Regions from separate parts of the Homo sapiens genome. Here region 1 is linked to region 2. The links come from fine-mapping of genetic effects on gene expression. Tissue or cell type: nasal epithelium. Region 2 holds a variant in brackets; the other region holds the start of a gene. All regions are shown on one strand. Distances are between the middles of the regions.

Evidence for each region. PIP is the estimated chance that this variant, and not a neighbour inherited with it, causes the effect.
Region 1: SPTBN1 starts here. The variant in region 2 is fine-mapped to the expression of SPTBN1 in nasal epithelium (TOPMed, PIP 0.93).

Annotation. Positions count from the first base shown.
Region 1 is chr2:54,452,524-54,460,630 of GRCh38, forward strand. It overlaps SPTBN1 (spectrin beta, non-erythrocytic 1), which reads left to right and starts at 3,804. Exons shown (of 36, transcript NM_003128.3): 1 at 3,804-3,995.
Region 2 is chr2:54,655,169-54,663,275 of GRCh38, forward strand. It overlaps SPTBN1 (spectrin beta, non-erythrocytic 1), which reads left to right. Exons shown (of 36, transcript NM_003128.3): 28 at 1-40; 29 at 746-830; 30 at 2,682-2,878; 31 at 3,986-4,098; 32 at 4,768-4,831. Among named protein-coding and RNA genes, the nearest start is that of SPTBN1-AS2, 21 kb to the right of the region's middle. The variant T/A (reference allele first, on the strand shown) is at 3,335.

The DNA of each region.
Region 1 (8,107 bases), 200 kb before region 2:
TTTTCATACAGTTTAGTGGCATTATGTACGTGTACATCGTTGTGGAACCATCACTACCATCCATCTCTAGAACTTTCTTCCATCTTGCAAAATAGAGTTATGTTGAGTAATTCATATGCAATGCCCAGGCATACAGCTCTGATATGCTAGCTCCTAAGATATCTCTGGCACTTAACTAGCTGTGAGAACTTGGGCAACTCATTTGACCATTTGGTCATCCACAGAATGGGGTTAATATTTACCTCACAGAACTGGCAAAAGGACAAAATAAGATAATATTTGATAAAGCATTTTAAAAACTGGAAAACATTTTATGGTTGCTACTTATAATCATTATTATTATTAACATAGAAAATGTGAAGATCTTTTATAGAAAGCTGAGACCATTTATTGTGATCATTTTATAAATATTGTTATACATTTAGGTTACCATCTATTCAGATTTATCATTACACATATCTTTTACTTTTTTATTGATTGATTATATCTAGAATGGAATACTAGATATAATCTACTAGAATGGAAGATCCATGAAAGCAATGATTTTTTAAAATTATTTTACCCATTGCTCTATTTCAGAGCCGAGAAGAATATAAGGCATATCTATCTCTTGAATAATGAAAGAATAAATTACTTTATGCAAGAGTAAATATGTTATTAGTGCTTTAAAAAATTCATTCATAATGATAGTTTACATATAAGTCTTTAGGTTTTCCCAGTGCAAAATTAATACATGTGAATTCCCAAATGAAATATATTTTAAATATGAGGAAATTTCCCAGACTAGTTCAGAGTTAAAAGGAAGCAAGTTTAGGAGTAAACAGGAATTTTAAAAATATATGCAAGTTTTCAAAATATGTTCTGATTTTAAAGTTTTGGGCTATTATCAGTACAATAAAAGATGAGTTCAATTGGGTTAATATAATATAACCAAGGAAATACTTAGAGTATCATTCTCTTTTCTAAACAAAACAGGTTGTAGTAGACAATACTGTTTATCAATACCTTTTTATTTTATTTTATTTTATTTTATTTTTTGAGACAGAGTCTCGCTCTGTCACCCAGGCTGGAATGCAGTGGTGCGATCTCGGCTCACTGCAACCTCCGCCTTCCAGGTTCAAGTGATTCTCCTGCCCCAGCCTCCAGAGTACCTGGGACTATAGGCGTGTCTCACCATGCCCGGCTAATTTTTGTATTTTTAGTAGAGACGGGGTTTCGCCATGTTGGCCAGGCTGGTCTTGAACTCCTGACCTCAGGTGATCCACCCACTTCAGCCTCTCAAAGTGCTGGGATTACAGGCATGAGCCACCGTGCCCAGCCTTCCCCTACATTCTGAATGGAAAGTTAAAATGACAATTTATATCTGTAAAAATTTTGTAATAAAGTATTTTGATGGGAGATAAAGCCATATGCAATCACATGGTTTTAAAAGTGGAGAGTAGTATGTTACAAACATGATATTGAAGACTTCTAGGTTCCTTTATATCAACCCTGATTCTAATATGAGAAGAAACTAAGCCGCTTCTGAGATACATGGGAATAATCCTTCTGAGCTGTTATCACTGCCTAAGACTTTTTATCTTTTTTAGATTTTGCCTTCCATAAAAATGTCTTCTCCAATAATCTTTCCAGTTGTACTATCTTTTCTTTGAATTGTTACTTCTTTTTGGTCGTTGGTACACTGAGTTCTCTAGGGTGATTTTTTGCACCTAAGGGTAAGAATTCAAAATTGTGATGCAGGTATTTACAGTAGAACTCTGAATCCTTGTCTTTCACATTTTTGGAATAATTACTGGGGCTTTACTAGAGTACCTTGCTAAGGTGTGTGTGGCCTTTTTTTTTTTTTTAATTAAAAAACAACGTAAGTGGGAGTGGAATGGGGTAAGGGAGGTGAATCATTCATCAAATGAAAATTTATTTAAATACCGTTGTCTGTGATAAAGGAATAACCATTTCAGAATAACACTGGAAGAATTAATTTAAATGGATGCACTTCCCAATATTGTTACTGTTTTCTTTGGTATTTCATTAACATTGTGAGTGGGGAGGTGCTGGGGTCCATGGTAAAAAAATAAGTAAGTGAAAGGCAAACAACTTTGCTTTCTAGTGGATTTCCCTTATTACCTAATGAGGGCAGCAGCTTACAAGTTGATTGTGTTCAATTCAACAAATTTGTTTTAGTACCTAAGTGCCTGCTATATGTACAGAGTGAAGAAAGAAATAACCCTACCTTTAAGAGAGTTTACGGTCTGGTTGTGTTGATTCACCTTCTGAGAAAAAATGTTATTTGCTTTCCTCAATTTTTTTCCTATCAAAAGTAAACATAGGTTCAAACATTCAAACCTATGAAGGCCTAAAAGGAAGAATCATCTTCAGTTTGCTGTGACGATTTCACTGAGTTTTATTTTAAAATATTCATTTAAAAATACATACAAACATATAAACCCATCAGGCCAGGTTCTAGTGATCTGAGATATAAGCATGATACAAACTACTTGGCTGCCGTGTATTTTTGTTTTATTTTAATCCAGGTGATCAGGTCTGTATGGGGAAAAAGCCCTGGGGCTTTTTCAAACAGGAAGGGCCCTCCTCCCTCTGAATGCCCGCAGTGCCGCCCTGTGCACTTTACAGAACAAGGAGAAAGTCAGTTTCTTCAAACTGCTTTTCTAAAGAGCGTTTCCATTCGTGGTCCTGGTGATTCCACCATCTTTTCTTCACAACAGTGACGGTTCTGGAATTTCTACACAGCCTGAGGGGCTGACGGGGTAGACCAGGTGACTGGGAAGGGGCAGTGGCACATGACAAAAATTTGAGGAAACGTCCAGTTTCCGTTTCAGGGAATGCGCATAGGGGAAAACGCAAGTCCCCACGCCATCACGGGGCCCTCCACCGCGGCCGGACGACCCCTCTCTCGGGAGTGACTGGGGCAGGGCACCTGGCCTCAGGTTCGAGCGGAGCCTGCACTGAGAGGCAGGAGTTGGATGAACCACTTGTAGGGTCTGCTCCCAGCTACCCAAAGCGAAAGGGTGGGCGAAAAAGCATTTGCAAAAGAATACATTAACCTCACAAGGAACGACCCCCACCACCCATCCTCCAGCGCCCAAGGTTTCCCACGAAGAGGTCGCCGTCGCCCTTCTCCAAGTTGGGTAGAACCTATAAGGCATCACCAACTGCATCTCAAACCAACCAAGCAAGTGACGCTCCAAAACCTCCCTAAATACCCTCTCTCCCCAGCATTCCGAACGCAACATCAAGGGCGAAAAGAGGCTGCACAAATCACGTAGAAAATTAGACCGCCTCTTTCCATGGCGATAATCGAATTAGCCTCAAATTAAACGTGAAATTGGCCCTCTCCGGCTGTGGAGACAAAGCCCCTATTGTCCTGCTCGGGTAGCGGCAGCAGCAGTGCCCACCCCGCCCCGGCCAGCCTGGTCGGTCCCCGCCGCTGGGAGGATGAGGTCCGGGCTGGACCCGGGAAGAGCCTCAGCTGGAGAGGACGTGGACGCGCCCGAGGCTCGGCTCCCTGGGCGGCTGCGGGGCTCCGGGCAGGAGGAGAGGGCGGGCGAAGCAGAGGGAGCGGGCGGGAGTGGGGAGGGAGGAGTGCGGAGGGCGGAGGGCGTGCGGGAGGGATCCCGGGAGTGCGCTTGTGTGTGTGTGCGCGCGCGCCCGCCCCGCGCGCTCCTCTCCCCGCCCCTCGCCCCCTCCCTGCGAGCGCCCTCCTCTCCTCCTCCCCCCGCCCCCCGCGCTCCCGCCCAGCCCCCGGAATCAGTGCCGCTGTTGCCGTGCAGGCTGCGGATTCCTCCAGTCCCTCCCTCGGCCGCCTCTCCTCCCGGAGCGAGCGCGCAGCCCTGCGCAGCAGCGCCCACTGGTCCCGTCCTGTGAGCCCCGGCCCCAGCCGCGGACAGACCCGCGGAGTCGCCTCCCGGCCCACCCGCCCGGCCGCCGAGGAGCGGGAGGAGGACGGGACCCCGGCGCCCCCACCCCATCCCCGGGAGGTAGGTAGGGGGCCCGAGGCAGGGAGATGCCAACTCACTGGGGCTGCCTCCCGGGTGGGCTCCGCGGCGGCGGACGGGCGGGAGGAGGGGCGCGGGCCCAGGGCCGGAGGACGCCGCTGCCCGCCTGCCCTGCGCCCGGGGAGCCGCGTGGGGGCAGGGAGGCTGCAAAGCCCGGGCGGGGGCGGCGCGGGGAGCCCGGGTCGCGGGTGCTCATTGGTACTCGGATGATGCGGGACGAGGGGCGGCAGGCTCTGCGGTGAGGCGGCAGCAGACCCGCCGTGCGCACCGCTGCCGTCCGGCCCCAGCCCCGGCGCGGCGCGGCGATTCCTCCTCCCTGCCTCCGCCGGCGCCTCCCTGCAGCCGGGCGCGGCGGCCCCTGACGCGGAGGCCCCTGGCGCGGAGGTGGGTGCGGAGCGGACAGCGGACAGCCGGAGGGTCTATTTTCAGGTGCCCTCTCTGTGGCCCCGCGGGTGGGGAGCGGGGGCGGCGGTGACAGGGCCGGGCTCTGCGCGTAGCGGTGCAGGGGATGCGGCCAGGCGTGGTCCCGGCTGCGCCGCGCTGCAGCTGAGCCGGAGGCGGCGGCCCCGCGCCCCCACCTCCGCCCCATCCCTGCGCTTGCTACCCTCGTGCGCCCGCCCCCCCCCCGCCCTTTCTGCCGTCCCCACTCTCCCAGGGCTGGGCGTGAGCCGCCTCCGGGCGCCGAGCCGCCGCTGCGCCCGCCCTTCAGCTCCTGCCACCCTCTCTTCAACAGGTTTGTCTCAGCGCAGGGACCCTCCGGGCCTGCTTTGGGTAGGTGGGCTGGCTCGTCATCACCCCCCACACCACGCCCACGGCCCTCTTTTAGGGGGCGCCTTCTCTTTGTTTTTGTGATAGGAAAGGTGCCAACTGCTGCCATCAGATGAGGAGGGGGTGGGGATCAGAACGCAAACCTCTGTCCATTATTTTTCCAATCGAAAGCCAGGCCAGATAGTAAGTGAGGACAGGGTGCGTGTGGGGGTGCTTCGGCGGAGCAGAAAATTGAATTCGGTGGGGTTTATTTGGGCGGGGATGTGCTTTTTTGGCAAGATGGATGGCTCACGGTGCCCTCGCCGTGATGCAGCACAATGCAGCAGTATCGCAGCTTCCTTGGTTCTCGCTGGCGGGGCTTGGCACGGCCGCTCGGCGCCTGCGGCCCCCGCCCGGCCCCACCCAGGCCCGGGGCTGCCCTTGGCCGAGGCCTGGAGCTGCTGCTACCTTGTCCTGCAGCTTCTGCTGGATGTGGCGTCAGGAGGACCAGGTCAGCTAGGTGTGAGCAGGGGAGAGTCTTTTCTTTTGGGATGATCCCTCCTGCACCTCTTCTTGGGCTGCGCTCTGCCGGAGGGGCGCCCTGCATCACCAGTGCAGGCAGAGGGGAGCCGGCCTGTGGTTGCGGATCGGAATCTGATCTGCGACCAGGGGACCTGAGCCATAGGGAGGGGCTGCAGGAAGGACTGGGCCCAGTGGTGTGCGGAGGCAATGTTGCAGTGTGGGGAGTCGCAGCGTTTTTCTGTGGATCGTCCATAATCTGTAACCACAACCCAGCTATGCATTAATTTTTTCTACGTGAAAAGTTGGTGTTTATTAATTGGACCTTCACAACTGTGACATTACAGTACCTCGTCTGTCTTTGGTTAATACCAAGTATGCATTTTTTCTGTAGGAAACCATTTTTAAATGAAATGATTAATGCATTTTGGGTTTTATGTCACTAAGACATTTATAAGTATATTAAAATTCAGTAGGTTGTTTTAAAAGGAATTTATATGTTTTTTAATGGATAGTAAATGATTCCTTTAGCTTGTATTTTGTTTTCATCGTTTGCTTTTTCTAAGTCAAGTACAGTTGCATTATTTGGATGCTTTATTAAGGATTATTAGGTGTATGAGTGTCATGATGGGGGCTAAATTGGTATTCAGATTTCTATTGATTGAGGTAGCCAAGTTAAGTGTCCGGGCGTAATTAATGGGATTATGACAGTAACACTGCGTTTGTGTTTGTTTATATGTATTTTTTGTATACATATTTTTCACAGCTGTGACTGGGGAGAGGGTGGAGAAGGGCAGACCACCAAGGCCTCTTGACTGGCATCTAGTCAGAAGGAGATGGTTCCCAGTGTTCTCATGTTTAGTCTCGGCCAGGACACAGGGAATTTCCCTTCTAAATGCCATCTCTATAATTCATTATTCAGTGTGGGATGGCAAATGGGATATATTTCAAATGTCAACCCAGGCTTTCCTAAAATGTTTAGGTGAAAAAGGAAATTTCAATATGCTAGTTGGAAGGGAAGGTCAGTGTTTACAAGCCAAGGGCGTGCCTGCTTGTATTTTTAAATATTTCTAATGAATCCAAGTTAGTTGCTTTTGATTTCATGTGGCTCTGCAGAATAGAACTGCATGTACATTGTGTGGTGTATGTGCGTTATTTTGAGTTTCTCTAATAGCCATTAAAATATGAGACTTTTTGTGCTGGTTGTGTAAAATCGTGTTGCGTACAGATTTTTATGAATGTTGTTCCCATGGATCATCCAAACGTTTTGGATTTACTTTGTTGTAAGAAATATCCTGTGTTGATGTCACAGGAGGTTTAGCTGTTCTGACTTACACAGCAGGTGCAGAATTCTGTTGGGTTAAGCTCTTTGTAACTCTGTCATTACTGGAGTGACCAAAACCTTCATCTGAGAGGAGAAGTATTGGGCAGTGAAGGAACTGCTGTCACTAGGTCGTCTCCCACAGTTGAGGTTTTCTGTGAAGAACTTCTCTTGGGCAAGACTAGTAACAACTATCTGTGATGTTGCAGAGCAAATGAGAAGACCTCCCTCTACTTGTGACACATCCTGAGCAGAGGCTTGGCATTGGCAGAGTTTCCTGGAAGGGTTTGTAGAGTGGTTGCTTTGTCTTGATGTTTGAATGTATGACTTTACATGTGGAAGTACTATTTTGACGTGGAAGGATTTTACTACTGCTAACATAGACATGATTAGTGGAAATCATTCAGTGTGGATTTTGTCGAAATAATTTTAAGCTTTTCTTTTTAATAGCATATTCTTATAGAACATTTTAAAGCCTAATTTTTTTTACGTGCAATGACATGATGCTCCTTTAATTATGTTGCATCGTAACTAGTATCTTCATTATAATTGGGCTTTATTTAATGGCAGCCGTAGTTTCTTTCACTACATTATTGGAAATGCAAACCATTCTTCCAGAAGGAAGGGGCTAACTACCCCTGTTAGAAGAGTGAACTTTGTAGGTCTGTGGAAGTGAGTAAAGCATCTCATGGGTTTTTCTTGTAAATTTTCAGTCTTTGCTTTTTCTCAGGGCATCTTTTCTTTGCAAAAGACCTAGTTTAGTACTCTGATTTTTCCGGTAGCACTTGTAATTATATTTAAATTTTTATTGTGTGGGAATAACATCATCTATTTTTTTCTACTCAGTGGTTAAAGGAAATTACACCAATTAGATATACCTGTGTTTCTATTTTTAAACATCTCTGGAGAAGGCATTTTCATAATGTCCTTTGCTATCATAGTGAGGTTCACGGACCTTCAACATTAGAATCGCCTGGAAGCTTGTTGCAAATGCAGATTCTTAGGCCCCACTCTGAACTCAGCCAATCGGAATCAACATTTTAACAAGACCTTTAAGTGAGTTGTATGCACATTAAATGAAGAAACTCTATTCTGTTCCTTCAGCAAAGGGACCTCAATATCAAAAGTTTCCTTCTTGAATTTTCCTTTCTTTTGCTGAAGTATCAGCACATTTTTTTCCTTGATGGTGGTGACAAAAGTGAGGCTCTCACTGTAAATTATTTGTTTAATACAAAATTATTTTATAAAGCTGTTCTTTAATTCTTGGTGGAAGAGTCCTATATACCATGGTTTATTTAGATTAATCAGTGTTTTAGGTTGTTTTGTAAAACACCTCTAAAGTTGAAAAACAGTCTTTTTCCCCTCTGGAAGAAAAAGGCATTGGTTTTGAGACATCAGAGCTGGAGCCTCGGAAGCTAACCCCTGAGCAAAGGGTCCTCTCTGCTCCCTCTGCTCTGGCATCTTGATGTCTGTCATCTGATATAGTCAATGTCCTGCCCTCTCGTCC
Region 2 (8,107 bases):
GAAATCCCTGTTGGCGAGAAAACACTATGCATCTGAGGAGGTAGGTTGCTACTTTGCTTTGGAGCTGCAGCTGGCGTCAAGATGTAAAATGACTTTGTTTTATATGTTTGTGTGTGTCAGAGATACTGTGTTTACATTCTTATACACACACACATATGTTTTAAAACTCCTTTCCTGTGCGTCTAGAATAATGCAATTATGCAAGACTCTAGGCCCAGGCTGGTAAATCTCTGGCACAGAAGACAATTTTTGAGGGCTACAAAATGGACTCCGCATCCTCCCCAATCAGTACTCTTTCTAGGTGACGCCAATGTCCATTGACTATGCCCTAGATCAGTTTGCTGTTGAGTGCATGGTTGGTGATTCTGGTTAGGATGGTGGTAATAAAGAGGTAAATTATTAGGTGCGTGTGTGGCCCCCTGCATGGGAATGGGCATCCTCTCCAAGAGGTCAGGGCTTTGTCCGTCTTGCTGTCCCTCTCCTGAACGTGTTTGCCGCAGGGAGCCTCCTCACGACAAAACAGCTTTGGCAGGGCTTCCGCGCCTTCCTCCAGCCCCTTCTGGAAGGAGCAGTGCTATGCTTTTCTTTCCTCTCCCAGTCCTCAGACAGACTGAGCAGTCCTTAGATATCTCCCAGCTTAATGGTGGTCTTTGCAGAAAATGTATTTTTCTAGTATAAAATGACCCCATCAAGAGGATGTGGTGCATTCCATTAAGATGTCCCGGGGATCCTCTTTTTCATACAGATCAAGGAAAAATTACTGCAGTTGACGGAAAAGAGGAAAGAAATGATCGACAAGTGGGAAGACCGATGGGAATGGTTAAGACTGAGTAAGGATGTAGTTTATCTTTCTGCTCTTTTGGGTATCAATGGAAAACATGCACGTTTATTTTCTTGCTTTAATTCATTAATGTTATCATTTAAAGATTGTTCGAGTTGTAGATGCCTTTTTAGTGCCCCGTTTCACCATTTCATGGTAAATACTACTTTTAAGAAGCTTCCTATGGCGTAGTCATTTTTCACCTCTTGATTGATCTCAGTGTCATAGGTGGGATTTGGATGTTCTTTAGGGATGACAGAGGGCACCTCCCTGGGAGAATACAGATAGAAGCCCTCTCCCCCATTTGTCTTCAAGAATTCTTACTACAGAATCAAGTTGGAAAGTTGATCTCATTAAGTCATATTTGGTGCTCTTAGTGGAATGTTGATAACATAATAAAAACTAACATCTATTAAAATTTTGCTGTGAATGAGGCATTGTTCTAAGTGGTTTTTTAATGTATTTCTGTGTTTATTCCCCAAAGTGACCCTGTGAATTAGATTCTATTTTTAATTCTCATTTTATAAGGGAATATGTGAGCTAATACAGGGTTTATAATGTACAGTATTAGGAATAGCATTTCATAATTGGTATGAGCACTAACAGCGCAATTCTAGCATTGCTTACCATGCTTTGCCATTCTCTGTTGGAGTTCTGGGCTCTGTCCTTATGTTCTAACTCCATCTATGCATGTTATGGGGGTTTACTAGAAACCAAATGCAAGGGCCTTTTCTGAGAGGTTTGACGGCACACTCTGTTGGGCCCAGAGCCCTCAGAAATCCCACTTTTTGACCATTCTTTGCAGGAGGATTTGGTCTGTATGTTTTGAGAATTGTGGGGCAGTTTCATTCAGCTCAGCAAAACCCACATTACACACTGAACCGGGCACCAGCTTGTACACCAGGGACACAGTGATATGCACAGTCCCTGCCTTGAAAAGCCAGTAAGTCCCTAGTGCAGAGGTGGCATCTTCTTCATGTAGTCATGTTGGGGGCTACCGAGGTGCTGAAAGCAGATAGCTAGCCAGCTCCTTGGGACACCAACGCTGCCCACAGTCCATTTTTTACCTCAATGATCCCAGGCTTTGCTGCATGAAATGAAGTGAAAATCAGTGTTAACTATAGCAGAAAGCCTGGTTCTAACCTACCTTCTCATAACTATGTTGGAACTAGTGTTCCATTTCCTCACAGGTGGAAGAACAGAATGAAACAGAGCAAAAGCCTTGGTCCCCACCATCTGTAGTGTTCCCATATCCTTCCCTCCCTCTAAACCCCCCAAAATAAAACACACAACTACCGCCCAAAAGAGGGCGAGTTAAGAATGCCTGCCCATCTGGCTACGTGTAGATTGTGAATTCCTGCAGGTCTCTGAAGGCTTAGCTCATGAAGTGGGGCCGAGTGAACAGAGCGTTCACTGTAGACCTGCGCTGAGCAGTATGATAGCTGCTTTCCCACGTGTGGCTCTTGAGAACTTGAAATGTCTCAAATTGAGATGGGCAGTGAATGTGTGCCGTAAAATGCACATCAGATTTAGATTTAGAAGAAAAAAGATTGTAACAGATCTCAATAGTTTTTTTCATATTGATTACATGTTGTAATAATTTTATACATATTATGTGAAATACACTATTAAAGTTAATTTCACCTATTTATTTTTACTCTTTTTAATGTGGCTACTGGAAAAGTCAAAGTTGCAAGTGTGGCTCACATTACATTTACATTGGACAGGGCTAATTTAGAGTAGACGATAGACTGGTTATGCAGGTAGCCATCACCAGAGGGCAGCAGTGCCAAGAGGTAAGGCCATATGACTGCCCGGCACCTCCTGGTCAACGTGTACTAACTCATGGTACCCTGTGCAGTTCTGGAGGTCCATCAGTTCTCAAGAGACGCCAGTGTGGCCGAGGCCTGGCTGCTTGGACAGGAGCCGTACCTATCCAGCCGAGAGATAGGCCAGAGCGTGGACGAGGTGGAGAAGCTCATCAAGCGCCACGAGGCATTTGAAAAGTCTGCAGCAACCTGGGATGAGAGGTTCTCTGCCCTGGAAAGGCTGACTACAGTAAGTGGCCGCTGGGCCCTTTGTCTGTTGGTGCCCTGGGCAGCCTTTTCTTCCTGCTTGCCTCTTAGACCAGGGAATTCACACGATTGCTTGTTTTTGTTTTTTGGGTTTTTTTCAAGTAGTGAAGATCATCTTAAAATGGGTGGCTCCTGTGGAGCAGGACCTAGGGAGAGGGTCAGGACTGTTACCTCCTCAGTCACATCCTGGGCACCTGGATTTATGATCCCTTATAGTAGCTTCCTGCCTGGGGGTTGATTGGTGGTGTTTGCTTTTTTCTTCGAATCTTTCATTCTCCCCTATCTCATAAAAGCTTTGTTCTCAAGGGGGCATGGCCTCAAAATTTTCTTCAGAATTTCAGAATTAGAATTCCCATCAAATGGAAGCTTAATCCTAGCCTGTTGTTAAGTCCCCAGTCCTGATCCCCTCTTCTGTCAACATAAAGGCCTTAGAATAGGA[T/A]TTGTGCACTGGTGTTTCCTCTCCCAAGACTTTTGCATTCCTGGTAGAAAGCTGATCCTTTGCAGTGTACAAAAATGGTGTTTCTGGTTTCCAGTTCTGGGTGTTTAAAATGTACCTGCATACATTTGTGTTAAAACAGAGTACTTCTGGTACATCCATATGACTCATGAAATGGCTTTGTTTCAGTTAGACTATTCTGTGGCTTTTTAATGTGTTGTTTGGGTTTTGGCTGAACACAGATCCCCACCACAGCACAAGCGGCTTCCTTGAGAATTATTGCAGCTCTGTCCCTGGTGTTTGTCTGAGCTCTCCTGGGGAGTCCAGCATGAACCCTCAGGCTCAGGTACTTTTCTCCTCAGCAGAGTTGAGAGTTGCATAGTTACTTTAGAAATTAAACCCAAGCTCCCAGGGGTCCTACAAACAACTCACAGGAATTTTGCCAGCCCATGGAATAGACTATTTCCTGTAGTTTTAGGTTGTAGCTGCAGTTCCTGTGAACCTAATTCCATTTGGCTCAGGATGTTAGAGCTTCTTGTCCAGTGTGGTCCAGTTTAGCAAACTAGACAGGAGGACTTCCTGGGTTCCTAGAACCTTTTTCTGAAAAGAGGCAGAGTTTGGGACTCTACCAAACATCACTCTATTTTCTCTTAGTTGGAGTTACTGGAAGTGCGCAGACAGCAAGAGGAAGAGGAGAGGAAGAGGCGGCCGCCTTCTCCCGAGCCGAGCACGAAGGTTTCAGAGGAAGCCGAGTCCCAGCAGCAGTGGTGAGTCCCAGCAGCTCCAGAGGCTGGACCCTTAGCCTCGGTGGCCAATGAGGTTTATGGGGCATCTTTCTGAAGCCTTGCATTGCTAGGCCTAACCACATGCCCTGCCTACTGATTGCTTCCATAGACTGTTTAAAGGCTGTACAGTTATCCCTAAATAACCTTGGAGGGCACTGATTTGTCCACAGTCACATAGGTATGTAGGTGGCAGAAGTAGAATGTAGACAGTGCCCTTTCTCATCCTGTGTGCACACACACAGGATGCTCAGAACTTCCATATGATTAAATGCATGGAGTGAACTGCCCAGATTTTAGGCCAGTGATTTTGTGGTGATGCGTTTTTTGAGAGTTCTAAGTAACTTCACACAGAGGGCAGCAATTATTCTCTACTTCCAAAGGGCTAATTATTTTGCTATGGTAAGAGTTCCATGGCAACCTCTAATGCTGCCTTTATGTGGTGGAGCGGGGCATAGGGCATTCCTGTAGTCGTATTTTTCTGTCTAGAGTCTATTTAAAACACTTGGAAGTTTCAGATTTAAAAAGAATTAAATTATGTGAAAAGGTTGCACGTAATAAAATTGAGTGATGATGTTCTCCCACCCTTTCTTACTGTTTCCTCTTTCTCCTCTTCTTCCTTTCCCTTCCTCCTTTTCCCCTCTTCCCTAACAGGGATACTTCAAAAGGAGAACAAGTTTCCCAAAACGGTTTGCCAGCTGAACAGGGATCTCCACGGGTTAGTTACCGCTCTCAAACCTACCAAAACTACAAAAACTTTAATAGCAGACGGACAGCCAGTGACCAGCCATGGTCTGGACTGTGAAGTTCACTACCATTTGTCAAGAATCACCCTTTCCAAATCCTCTGGGTTTTGACTTTTTGGCTTCCACTTCACCCAAAATGTTAAAATTTTTACTTAATTCATAGCCTTCCTTGGTTTCATATTTGTTTGCATTTAATTCATGTTTGAGTCTCTTAACTGATGGATGCCCACTTGCCTTAAAGCAGCATACTTATTTTTTGTTTATTTATTGTGAGCTTTTTACTTTATTAAGATTTTACAGCGAAACCCTTACATGAGTAATTGAAATGAAATTAAATGAGATTACAGCATAATGAAGAAGAAAACTAGAATCTAACAGGTATGACACATTCAGTTATTCTAACAGGGCACAGTACTGTGCTATATGTAGCCGCCTTTACAGATGTTATTAACCTATAGTAGTTTACTATTAACTAGGAAGACTGGTGTATGAGGAGGGAGACATTCTGTAATAAGATTAAAACCTAAAGTCAGCTGTGTAACATTCCATGAAAGATGCATTCATTTATTGAAGATGACAAAAAAGGGAGTCAGATATATTCTGGAAGCTATTTTAATTTTAGGCACACAATCTCATACATTTTGAGACCCTTGGGTCATTTATTACTTTTTACAAACTAGTTCCTCTCTTTTTTTCTGCCAAGTCCTGAATTGAAAACTGTAGGCTTCCTTGCACAGATGTTGCAGCCAGCCTCAGGAGTAAAGTGCCCGCTGACTGCTGCCGCCACCTCTGTCTCGCTCCCTGTCAGTGCTGCTGGCACGTGGGACGCGGCAGGTGACAGCCGTTCTCAGCATGTTTTAGAAGCTTGCCTCACAGACTTCCATGCCTCTCCATTCAGCCGATGACTTCAGGGTGTCAAACTGTTTTAATTTTTCAAACAAATGGAACAGAAGCCATTGTGGTTCATCCTGATTACTTGAACGTTGCACTTGGTGGACCGTGCCTGGGAGCGCTCGCATGCCCCCTGGCTTCAGAAGTCATGTCAGTGTCTCTGTAGACAAACTCCACTGTACATCTTGGATTAATCTTCTGATTCATTGTTCATTTTCTCAAGACTTTTTGTGGAATTCTCTGATAAAGGAAGCTTTTAGGATGGTATCTATCAGGCCACCAGCAGGAATTGAAAATGTTTTCACAAAAATCCTTTTCCTTAGAAATAAAAGCTGGTGACAGAGATGGTTTCCTTGTACCGATAAAAACAAAACCAAATCCATATTATACATCAAAACCTTGTGAGACATTCACTTGCTCTTTTGCCATATTTAGATGTGTCAGTGGAATCAGAAACCTGTTTTGATATGTGTTCTCTATGAGTTAAGTCTGATTTGTCTTTTTATTTCATGATGCATGTCTTTTTTTTCTTTTGTCAGGATAACGTCATATAGCATCTTGTTTGTTTTTCCTTATCTCTATGTACATATCTATCTACTTCTGACTGTAGATGGGTATATAGATAGATGCCAAGCTTCTTATGTTCTGGGGGTAGTATGCATCATTATTGGGTCTCTGCCTTAAAACACATCAAAATTCATTTTAGACAAAAAAACTTCTGCTTTGTCTTTGGTCATTAGGGAGCTCTAATGTGTGTTTGTGGCTCCAAGTTACATTTTGTGTTTCATTGATCTATATGTATATATGTGATGTTTTCATATATATATGTGTGTGTGTTTAAATTTTGTATCATCAGGACTGACACCCAATTTGACACTTTTTGTATCTAGAAGACCCTCCAAAAAAGGAACCACATAAGCACACAAGAAAAGAGTGCTATGATGTTCTTAGCATTTGCTATCATGCCTATTTTTATCTAGATTTTTAAATGTAGCTTGTCATAACAAAATTTTAATTACAATTGGCTTGTATGAGAAGAAAAAGTATTTTTATTGTTTTGAGTGATGACGCAGAGACTCAGTGAACTTGAAAATAGCATTGCTTCGTGCACTTTGAATACCAATCAGGTGTTTTCTGTGCTACTAGTTGTCACGTTGCATTCATGTTCACCTCCTGATTTAAGTATCTCGGGTGTGCCCAGCCACTAAAGCACTCTGGACTAATCGCTAAAGAGAAGCAACGTGGGGGGTGGGGTTGCGAGGGATGTGTTCACATGTACCCATCATTTGATCATAGCACTGTGATTGCTTTTGATGTGTGTCTCTAGTGGTGTGCTGTCTGTTGGCATGCTTAAAGCACATGTCCATTAAAATTCATTTTGTTCCTTTTATTTTCCTTGTTTTCTTGGTTAGTGATTCATTTGCATAAACATTAATGATCTCTGCATACTGGTTTGGGGTTTTCTCTTTCCTTCTAACTCTAAAGAAAAAATTTTTGCTGCAGAATTATCCTCAGAAGAGGCTTCCCTGGCCTTCATCTACCTTGCAGTCTGACCAAGTATGATAAATTTTAGCCGTTTTCAAGGAAACATCTCTCTACCCAGGTCATTGCTGTCACTAGCAGCTTTCAAGTCAAACCTGCAGCACTAAATTTTTTTTTATCCTGGTTTCTCTACATACTAACCCCATGTCTCTCTGGACTCACACCTGGCTCAGGCCTTCCAGACCAAACTCATACTTCCTCCTCACCAGAAGTTTCCGAATCTCACACTAGAGAAGATTTGTCACCTTTAAAGTCCACTCACATTATTTTGACTCAGGGTTTTGTTTTTTGTCTATTTCCCCTCCTGCAACTCTCCTTTAAAAGTGAAAAGAGAGAGAATGGTTTAAGTAGTCTGTTGCTCATAAGCACGTGTCTGCAGTCTGTCACTTGCAAGGCCTTGGTGATCACCATGCAGCACTTGTGCGCACACACACCCCCACAAGTCTTTTTTCCTAATAATCCATTTTCCACATTGCCATGAGGGTAAAGGGTTCCAATCAAAACCACCATTAAACTGCATAGTTTCTAGTCTTCCCTCAGCCCTGATGCTAATTATGATAGTTTGCATAGACATAACTTAAACTTGTGATTCTCCCTCCTTCCAGAGCTTTTTGTAGCCCTTTTTCCCCCCAAAATTAGTTTTGTTCAAAATCAAGCATTGGGCCCAGCCATTAAGATAAGACCTAATAAGTGAGAGATACAGTTCCCAAGAGTTTACAGATCCAGGTGTTCACATGGTGGTGGCCAGTCTACCGTTTATCTTGTCAAGGTTGTTACTGCTAATTTGGTGTCACTTTGGTCTTGGGCAGCAGTGG